2 separate regions of the Homo sapiens genome follow, and region 2 is linked to region 1. The links come from fine-mapping of genetic effects on gene expression. A gene starts in region 1. The other region holds a variant in brackets. All regions are shown on one strand. Distances are from middle to middle.

Region 1 (5,384 bases):
TTGACCCCTACACTATCCAAGACACTATCAGGACAACTGGTGAAATTCACATTGGATCTGATTATTAAATTGTAGTAACGTAGCACTCCACATTCCTGATTTTGATGACTGTATTGTGGTTATGTCGGAGCACATCTTTTTTGTAGGAAATATATACTCAAGTATATAATGAAAGATGATAGGTCACCAGATTGGAAATTTATTCTTAAATAATTTAGGAAAAGGAAAAGTTGTTTTACTGTACTTGCAACTTTTCTGTAAGTTTGAGATGCCTTGAGACGATATATATATATAAGTATATATATATTTAAACCACATCTCTCTCTCTCTCTCTCACACACATACACACACACACACACACACGCATACATATATACATATATATCGCTATTGTATCAACAACTGCAAAATCTTCTTAATGGTCAGCCATGGTCTGATACATTCTAACTCCAACTCACTTTCCCGTCCTATTTAGTCAATTCCTCAACCCAGTTCCCTAACCACACTGAACACTTGGATAGTTCCTTTTCTTTCCTCTGTCCCTCAAACTGTCACATCCTTCCTCCTCTCCCAAACTTAATCTCCATCTAATGAAATCTTACTGTTCTTCAAGGTCCATTCCAAATTTTCCCCAAGCTCCCGAAGCCTTTTCTGATTCCCCCAAAGGATGTTACTCCCCCTCCTTTATCTCCTTTGCGGCGCTTTAATTACGTGTGTACCTATGTCATTTTCCGTGACACATCAGTAAACATGTTGAGGGCTGGGACCATGTCTACTCCTCCCTGCAGACATTCAGAGCACTTTCTCAGTATAAGCTTACACACTGAAAACACTCCATTTAGAGAATTATGTGGTATCTTGACTTAAGTATTTGTTGTACTCAGGACATCACATGTATATGAAGTCCTCTTATTACATTTCAGAAGACAGAAACTGCAATGTTATTTAATTGCTTTTTATTTTTATTATTGTGACAATGCCAATATTCCAAGAGCCTGTAATAAAGGCTCTCAGCATAAATGGTCTACTATCTAACACCACCAGAACCCTTTTGGCATCTTTTGCATCTGGATACTTTTGCTCTATGCATGAGTGGGATGTATGGTCATTCCTTTTATGCAATCATGTAGTAGGCAAAACAATGGCTCCCTCAAAGATGTCCACATCTTAATCCCAAGAATCTGTGATTATGTTAGTTTATATTGCAAAGGAGAATTAAGGCTGCAGATTGAATTAAGGTTGCTAATCAGCTTGCTTTTAAATATGGAGAGCATCCTGGATTATCTGTGGGAGCCCAGTGTAATCATGAGGCTACTTAAAAGTGAAAGCGGAAGACAGAAGAAGAGTCAAGAGTGAAATGTGACCCCGGAAGAACTTTCAGAGGCGCAATGTTGCTGGCCCTGAAGATGGAGGAAGGGCTGCTGAGCCAAATAAGGTAGGTGGCCTCCGGAAGATGGAAAGAGGATTCACCCCAAGAGCTTCCAGAAAGGAAGGCAACCCTGCCAACACTTTGATTTTAACCCAGTGAGACCTCAGTAGGACTGCTACAGAATCCTAAGATAGTAAATTGTGTATGTGAGTGTGTGTGTGTGTGTGTGTGTGCGCGCGCGCGCGCGTTCCTATGTGTTTAAGCCACTAAAGCCATGTAATTTGTTATGGCAGCGAATTAAAAAAACTGATACAAATCAACATCACCGTATTTCCGTAATACAATCATATAACTGCGGTGCCAGGCCGTGTAGAATCGAATCTTCCTATATGCATGCGTGGCAGCAAAAAGAAAGGCAATAGAACGTCTGCCTGTTGTACAGACTGGAAACACAGTATTCTCCTTCGGATGTCTCCTTCAAGAAAAACCTTGCCTATTCTGACACGCCAGCCATGACTGCACAACACTGCCCCTACCAAGAATCGTTTTCTTAAGAAATCCGTTTTCCTAAGGACTATCTCCAGAGACACTCGGAGAAAACAGCGAGGGCCGGGCGCGGTGGCTCACGCCTGTAATCCCAGCACTTTGGGAGGCCGAGGCGTGCGGATCACGAGGTCAGGAGATCGTATCCATCCTGGTTAACACGGTGAAACCCCGTCTCTACTAAAAATACAAAAAAAAAAATTAGCCAGGCGTGGTGGCGGGCGCCTGTAGTCCCAGCTACTCTACTCGGGAGGCTGAGGCTGGAGAATGGCGTGAACCCGGGAGGCGGAGCTTGCAGTGAGCCGAGATCGCGCCACTGCACTCCAGCCTGAGCGACAGAGCGAGACTCCGTCTCAAAAAAAAAAAAAAAAAAAAAAAAGAGAGAAAACAGCGAGGAAACACAAATAACTTTATGTTTCAATTTCCTCAATGAAGCAAAGCAAACAAGTGACAAGGCTCGAAGCCCTGACGGCCCAGAGACTGCACAGCGGGCCCAGGAGCAGGTGCGCCCCCTCGAAGGCGGCGTGGCCTCCGCGACTCGGCTGCGGGCAGCTCCCGGGGAGCAGGGTCTCAACTCCGGCGCTGTCCCACTTCCGTCGGCGCTGAGGGCTCCCACCTCCCTTTCCACCCCCGGCTCTCCAGCCCGGGACTGCCAGCGGCGGGAGTGGCAGCCGGGGAAGGGACTCCCCACTCACCCGCGTCCGCCCGCCGAGCGCAGCTCCCCAAGGCCCAGCGCGCCTGCCCTTCCCGGAAAACAGCAGCGCCTGAAACGCCGGAACCCCGGGAGGCACTGGGAGGGGAAGGCCCGGGTTCTCGAAACTGTCGCTGCCTCCTGCAGAAGCGCCGCGGGAGAGCTGCGGGGTCTTCCTGAGGAGGTGGCCCTCGCAGGAACAGCTGGGTTCCCCGCGAAAAGAAAAAGACAGTGAAAAAGAAAACTGCTTTAACGGCGATTTTTCTTTAGCATTTAACCAATGCTCAAATACTAAACATGGTTGTCTCCAATGATTAGTCACTAACAGAAAAAAAAACTAATTTCACTTTCGATTTTTAAAAAGGGGTGGTTTTGCGGAGGAAAGCAGAAGTATACCTGAAGTTTCCGTACACACTAATTTTAGGGAACGCTTTCTAAAACCAGTTTTTTGCATGTATTTTATAAGGTATGTTGGAAAAGTGGATAGAAACCAAATAAAGTCAAAGCAGGAATCGCTCTTCATCAGATTGTAACTCTTTTGTAATTTCTTAGTCATTGTAACACTAGTTGACAAATGTTTACAGTCAGCACAAGATCGGCGTTTCTGTGTCTTTTGTAACATCCCCCGGGGCCATGAAGTTGGGAAAGCTGTGGTGTTCCTGTTGGTTTCTGTGACCCATGTCCCTTGAAAGTTTTCTTATAATCTCTTGTTTTGTTGTGGAGCTTGTAAATAAATACTTCACTAGGTGTGAACTTTTCCTTTGAAAATTCAAACATCTGGTTTATTTCAAGAACTGCAGTGTCTCTTAATCCCACACAAAGAACCACCCCACAGCTGCCCCGGCTCATAAATACAGATGTGGGAAGAAAATGAGTCAAAATTATTTCAAGGCATAAATTATAGGTTATCATGCTACCTAGTCACATATAATAACTGATACAGTGGTCTAAAATAGTTTAACAAAAGTAAAATTTCTTTGTATCAAAAAGGTTGATGGGAACCAGTTTAAAGTGGTGACATTTCTCTTTTTTTTTTTTTTTTTTGAGATGAGTCTTGCTCTGTTGCCCAGTCTCCAACTCCTGAGCTCAAGCAGTCCTTCCACCTCCACTCCCAAGTAGCTGGGATTACAGGAATTCACGACCGCACCCAGATTTTTTGTACTTTTAATTTGGGTGCTGGGGGCAGGTATCTAACTGTTTCCCAGGCTGATCTTGAGCTCTGGCCCAAGTGATCCCACCACCTCAGCCTCCTGTAAAATGGCATTTCTAAGTAAAAAAAACGACTTCTTTGTGCTTATCAGACCAGTTAGAAAATACAAAAACTCCTTCTGCTGCAACTTGAGAAAGAATTACTTTAGTTTTACCTTGAAATTTTAGAGGGAATATGAACTCTCGAGGTTATTTAGTTGAACCTCATTTCTTCTTATTTTTATTTTTTACAAGAAGATACTAAAGGACAGGACCATGGCCAGAACAGGACTAACTTAATATATTGACTCAGATTCTGTTTAAAAGGCAAATGATACAGGTGGAGGGGAAGTCTTTTTGGACACCTACATTCTAAAGCTGAGACATGTACTAACAGTCTGAATTTAACTCAGCTTCAAATCTGGTATTCTGCAAAGTGTTAGAGATCTGAAGATGAAGAGTTGGCTCCTGGACATACTATTAATAATTGTAATTGCTAACATCTACTAAGAACTCCTGGACATTTTATAAACCTTTTTGTTTTGCCAACAACAATATTAGATATAGGTATTATTCCCATTTCTTTTCACCTGTCTGAAGCAGGCAGGAAGGTATTATCCCCATTTTGCAGTTGAGGAAACTAAGGCATAAAGAGGTGACCCAAAATCAAGCAGTTAATATATGGTGACAATGATATCATACTCTACTCTCAACAATATCTCCAAACTGTGTCCTAGGGTACATGGAGAACATGGAATTTTATGGCCCAATACAATTAGGAAATGCTGCATTCTGAATCCACTTTTGGAAATTCACAATGCACATTGGCACATTAAGAGTTCCAAGAAGTATTGCAGGGAAAAATTAAAAATTTGTGCATATTAAAAATTTTAACTTTATTCAACCTTGAACTTATCAAATCAATTTGAGCGATATATTCTTTTTTTCAAGGAACAGTTATTAAAATCTTGGGGAGTTTCTGATGGGACCTTTCGAGGAATGCTCTAGTAAATTACGCCCTCTCCTAATATAAAAGTTATTTATTGATGTTATCATGCACTCAATAAATATGTTGCACATGAGCTGCAGCACTCTGTGCCTTGGATATCTCATGTAAATCTACACAGATGTGAGGTGAATATTATGTTACACATTTGTCTCCCTGACTACATGGCAATGAACTCCTCCCAGGCTTTCTATAAAGACACACACACACACACACACCAGTATTACATACAGTCTAATGTGTGTTGGAAGGGGTAGGATACCAGAAGTAGTAAAAAACAAAGGAGAGCGTAGTCCCCTCTACCTGAGGAGGTCAGGGAAGTTTCCTTCACAGAAGAGGTGAAAATTGAGTTGATTCATTAAGGTAGAGAAAGTAGACTGAGAAGAAAGATCGGGTGAAAAATCTCAGAGGGATGTGCAATGGACTAAATGTTTGTGTTCCTCCAAAATTCGTATGTTGAAATCCTAACCCCCAAGGTGACAGTATTAGGGCTGGGGCCTTTGGGAGATGATTAGGTCATAAAGGGTGGAGCCTAAATGAATGAGATTAATGCCCTTATCAAAGAGGTCCAAAGGAGTTTGTTGACC
Region 2 (5,384 bases), 75 kb before region 1:
GGCCAAGCTGGTCTGGAACTCCTAACCTCAAGTGGTCCACCTGCCTCAGCCTCCCAAAGTGCTGTGATTACAGGCATGAGCCACTGTGCCGGGCCTGAACTGACGTTATTTCTGCAATGCTACTCAGCAAACAAAGTGATAAAGTAGAGCCTTGACACTTACAAATTTAATAGTCATTGGATACCTTGATTAATAAATTAGCTGGGCAAATAATTTTAAATTGGAGATCATTTTCTATTATAATTTTGAAGACATTTCTCCATTATCTTAGAGTTTCCAGCATTGCTGTTGCAATATTGATGCCATTCTAACTTTGAATTCTTTTTTATCTCTCTTTGTAAAAAAAACATAAAATAAAATTGGTAGAGTTCCCTTATTGTCCCTGGTGTCCTGAGATTTCATCATGCTGCACCATTGTGCAGTGAATGAGGTGGACCCTTCAACCAAGAAATTCATGTGCTTCAGTTCTGCATAATTTTTGTAATTATTTTGTTGATGAATTCCTCTCCTCTATTTTATCTGTTTTCTCTTTGTAAAATTCCTATTATTTTGGATTTTAGGTTTCCTGACGTTGTGCTCTAATTTTCTTATCTTTTTTCTCTCATTTTTCATCCTTTTTCTCTTTTTTCCACTTTCTGAGAAATTATTCAGCTTTACATTTCAACCATTCTTTCAGGTTTTCCCAACAACTCTTTGTTTTTGTTTTTACTGATCTTTTTGTTACAATTATTCTATTCTTGCTTCCTGTATGGAATCTCCTATTCTCTGAGGTTTTGTTTTGTTTTTGTTTTTGTTTTCAGATAGAGTCCCTTCTGTTGCCCAGGCTGGAGTACAGTGGCGCGATCTCGGCTCTCTGCAACCTCCACTGCCCGGGTTCAAGCGATTCTCCTGCCTCAGCCTCACAAGTAGCTAGGAATACAGGCACACGCCACCATGCCCAGCTAATTTTTGTGTTTTTAGTAGAGACGCGGTTTCGCCATGTTGGCCAAGCTGGTCTTGAACTCCTGACCTCAGGTAATCTGCCTGCCTCAGCCTCCCAAAATGCTGGGATTACAGGCATGAGCCACCATGACCGGCCTTCTCTGAGGTTTTAAGTGATAGTTTTTGTAAAGTTATCTTATCCCTGAGTTGTTTGGTGTTTTATGTTGTTTACTACATACAAGAAGCTTTGCTCTGATGCCTGATAATTGCAGATTGTCTGTACATACTTAAGAGTGAAGCTTTACAAGTCGATTAAAACCTGGAATATTTTATATTAAATAAAAAAGGAAATCTTGTCACATGCTATACAACAAGGATGCAACTTGAGGACATTATGCTAAGTGAAATAAGCCAGTCACAGAAGGGCAAATATTGTATGAGTCCACTTATGCAAGAGATCTGAAGTGGTCAAACTCATAGAAACAGAAGTGTGGTGGTTTCCAGGGAAGAGGGGGAAATGGGAGTTGTTCAATAAGCATACAGTTTCAGGTTTGCAGGATGAAAATGTTCTGGAGATCTGTCACACAGCAATGTGAATATTCTGAAATACTTACTGAACTCTACACTTAAAAATGGTTAAGATGAAAAATTTCATGTGTTTTTTTACCACAATTAAATTTGTTTACATTTATTAAAAAGTTGATTAGAAGTTTTGAGCACAAAGGTGGGGCTGTTTTGCCATGGGCTCCAGTTCCAAGCGATGAGGACAGCTATTTCCCTAAGGAATCCCTAGCGTTAATGTCATTAGGTCTCTCCTCTTGGAAAGCCATGGGCTGCTGAGATTCCCCAGAGAATGATCATCCGAATTCCTCTCCTATAGGGTATGGGACTGGCTGCTGGCTTTCTGTGAGGTTTGTAGGGAAAGACAGTGATTCAGTGATTTCAGAATTGAGTATACAAATTTTACCTTCTTCCCTGCCTTCAGTATGGGCCCCTGTCCTCAATTGTGCTTGGAATCCTTTCTACGTTACCCCTTCCATGTTACATTTCCTGGGAATATAGCTTCAATCTTCTTCCATGATGATGGAAGAGCAAGCCGTCATACAACTCTGTAGAATCGGGACGCAGGCCTAGGGAGCTTAACTGCTTCTGAAAGAAATCAGACTACTTTCTTTGCACTTACAGAGGTATCCGCTCTAATTAAGCCTTAGGGATTCAACTCAGTGTAAATCAATTTGTTTCTCAACTTTCTCCACTGCTTAGTGAGGATTCAGTCATGTCAGATCTGCTTAATCAATTACCACTTTCCCATCTACTTATCAATTTTCAAAATTTTATTCATTTTCTCTCCCATTCTCTTGTCCTCAAGTGTTTATGCCTTAAAAAAAAAAAAAAAAAAAAAGTTTAGGCCGGGCGCAGGGGCTCATGCCTGTAATCCCAGCACTTTGGGAGGTTGAGGCAGGTGGTTCATTTGAGGTCAGGAGTTTGCGACCAGCCTGGCCAACATGGAGAAACCCTGCCTCTACTAAAAACACAAAAACAATTAGCT[G/A]AGCCTGGTGGTACACGCCTATAATCTTAGCTACTTGGGAGGCTGGTGGGAGGCAGGTGGGAGGACCGCTTAAACCTGGGAGGTGAAGGTTGCAGTAAGCCAAGATTGCACCACTGTACTCCAGCCTGGGTGACAGAGCAAGACTCCGTCTCAAAAAAAAAAAAAGTTTAGATTAGAGGGGCTTAGGGTTCGACAAGAGGGTGATAGCTATTGCCTATATTCATCCACCATCTTTACCCAGAAAAGTTGGCTTGTTTTCTATAATTTCAGACTTAATAACTAATTTCTTGGTTGGAGGTGATGTAGTGGAAAGTATCAGAAATTTAGAATCAGTCAACGTGAGCCAGATTCTGGATCTGCCATTTTCTTGTGTGACCACAAGTTAACTAGCTTCTCATATCAGTTTCTCTGTTTATAAAATGAAGATGTTAACACATAGGCTTCTTCTGAGGATAAAGTGAAAAAAACATATGAAAGTCATATGTAAAATAACATATGTAAATCTCATGTAAAACTTAATGCTTGCTTAATAAATACTCTTCTTTCCGTTCCAATATTAGTTGTTCAATTTACCTTCCACTAGCAACTGTAACATTCTGGTAATAACCTCATTCTGGGCTCAGTTTCTACAATATTATTCAAATCACACTAGCCATCCTCTACTGGCTGTACTTGCCACCTTGAGATCTGCTGTCCGATTACGACATTCAGTCTCAATTGGGTGCTGTGTCATTTTGTTGGAATAAGTGCAAATTTTAAATTTTAAAAAAATTCAAAAATGAATGCATTACTTTTGAGTCATTTAATCAAATCTACTTTTACCTTACTATTGATATTTCCAAAATTTCCCTTAAAAAGTAAAATGGACTTTGGTTAGATATCAAGATCTGGACAATTGTGTAGAACTTTAACCATCTGAGCCCAGAGTTTTGTTCATACCCTTGGAGATGCAAAGCAGCTGGTTACTGTCCTCATGTTATTACATTTTCTCCTAACCCACTCAGTGATAACATACCAAACCATCTGCAGCAAAAACATGCCAAGGTTTTACAACAAACTGGGCACTAAGCATTGCTCCATATAGACCATCAAGAAATTCACAAATCAGTGGCTTAAAGACTTTATTAAATTTACAAATATTTCTTGAGTACCTACTATGTTCCACTAATTGTCATAGGTATTTGGGATACACGAGTCAAAGAAACACATTTAAATCAAGAATCCTTGCATTCATAGAGCTTATATTTTAGTGAAAGAGATAGACAATAAACACAATAAGTAAGTTATAAAGTGTGTGTTTTTTAAATAGAGCAGGGAAAGAGGATCAGAACTGCTAGAAGAGGTATTGCAATTAAAATAGACAAGATTTCTTATGTACTCCAGAGATCACCACTAAATCAGTGATAGTTGTTTGGTCACAAGTAACAAACAACTTTAAACAGAACATGAATATATTAGGTAGATATCAGGGGACATACAAAATTGATAGCAATACCAGAGAAACAAGTCGAAAAAAGGTTAGGAATCAGGGTAGCTCCAAAGCAAGTGGAATTAATCAACATTCTCCACACCTACCATCACTGGAACGAATAATCTCCTAGCATCTCGTACCCTTTCTGCATTGCTCCAATCAAGACTGGAAGTTCCAGGAGCATCTGATTAACCAAGCTGGAGTCACTTGCCTGCTTAGTGGGTAGACAATCCCAAAAAGAAAATTTCCAGAGGGAGAGTTAATTCTTCAAAAGGAAATTAGTGTGTGTGCCAAAGTAAGGGAAATGGGTGATGGGCAACCAAAACAGTACATGTTCACTATTGCAAGTGCCAGCTCCAGAAAATCTACATAGAAGGGGTGTAGAGAAGCAATCTGATTGAAAAGAGGCAGTAGGGTACGGTTCTTAATCTGCATTTTGATAGCAATCACACTGTTTTGACTTAGATTGTTTATTTATGTTGGTAGTTTTGAAGAGTTGCTTAAGATTATTGAGCCGGGTGCAGTGGCTCATACCTGTAATCCCAGCACTTTGGGAGGCCAAGGCAGGTGGAAAACTGGAGGTCAGGAGTTCGAGACCAGCCTGGCCAACATGGTGAAACCCCACCTCTAATAAAAATACAAAATTTAGCCGGGCGTGGTGGTGCACGCCTGTAATCCCAGCTGTTCGGGAGGCTGAGGCAGGAGAATCACTTGAACCTGGGAGGCAGAGGTTGCAGTGAGCTGAGATCATGCCATTGCACTCCAGCCTGCGCAACAAGTGAAACTGGGTCTCAAAAAAAGAGATTATTAGCTAGATTAAGCCTCTACAAGCGGTGCCTGGGGCCCTCTACTGATCACAGCCCCAGAGACACCTTCTGACTGCTATTGCAGCTTGACTGAACTTATTCTAGAATCCCCAGTAGGATGAACCAGAAGAGACCACCATGTGGACTTTAGTACACTACAATGTTCTTTTAGTTCACTACAATGGCCTTTAGTAGTGAACAACAAAGCGCATCCTAGACTAAATTAAACAGTCATCAGCCCATTGGACTACTCTTTGTGTATGTTTAATTATCCAGGGAAGAATATTTCACCACTTTTCAAAAGGGGATTTGGAACATATGCTGCTATAGGAACAGTAGCATAGATTTGAATCCCCCCAAATCGTCACATGAAAACAGACAAAACAAATATACAGCAAAACCAAAAGCCACAGACAATAGTTACAACAAAACTAAGTCTTTTCTCTGATCATATTGGCAGTGGTTGTATTAGTATTAGTATTCTGAGATGATTCTGTGTATAATAAAGCAAATTAGTAATGCTAGAATATTCTAATTTTCTCATCCCTCATGTTGTTATCAGTGGAAAGTATCCATACGGGGCTGCAGCAACCTCAATTCTTGGCTTCTCAGAACAAAGAATTCACCTGAGGGACAT

What was found. PIP is the estimated chance that this variant, and not a neighbour inherited with it, causes the effect.
Region 2: its variant is the best candidate, but not a certain one, in a credible set for the expression of NMI in whole blood (TOPMed, PIP 0.88).

What each region holds. Positions count from the first base shown.
Region 1 is chr2:151,286,986-151,292,369 of GRCh38, forward strand. It overlaps NMI (N-myc and STAT interactor), which reads right to left and starts at 2,683. Exons shown (of 8, transcript NM_004688.3): 1 at 2,608-2,683. RefSeq lists enhancers at 1,232-1,401, 2,202-2,251, 2,272-2,321, 2,712-2,791, 2,852-3,271 and a silencer at 2,452-2,651.
Region 2 is chr2:151,211,756-151,217,139 of GRCh38, forward strand. No RefSeq gene overlaps it. Among named protein-coding and RNA genes, the nearest start is that of RBM43, 47 kb to the right of the region's middle. The variant G/A (reference allele first, on the strand shown) is at 2,471.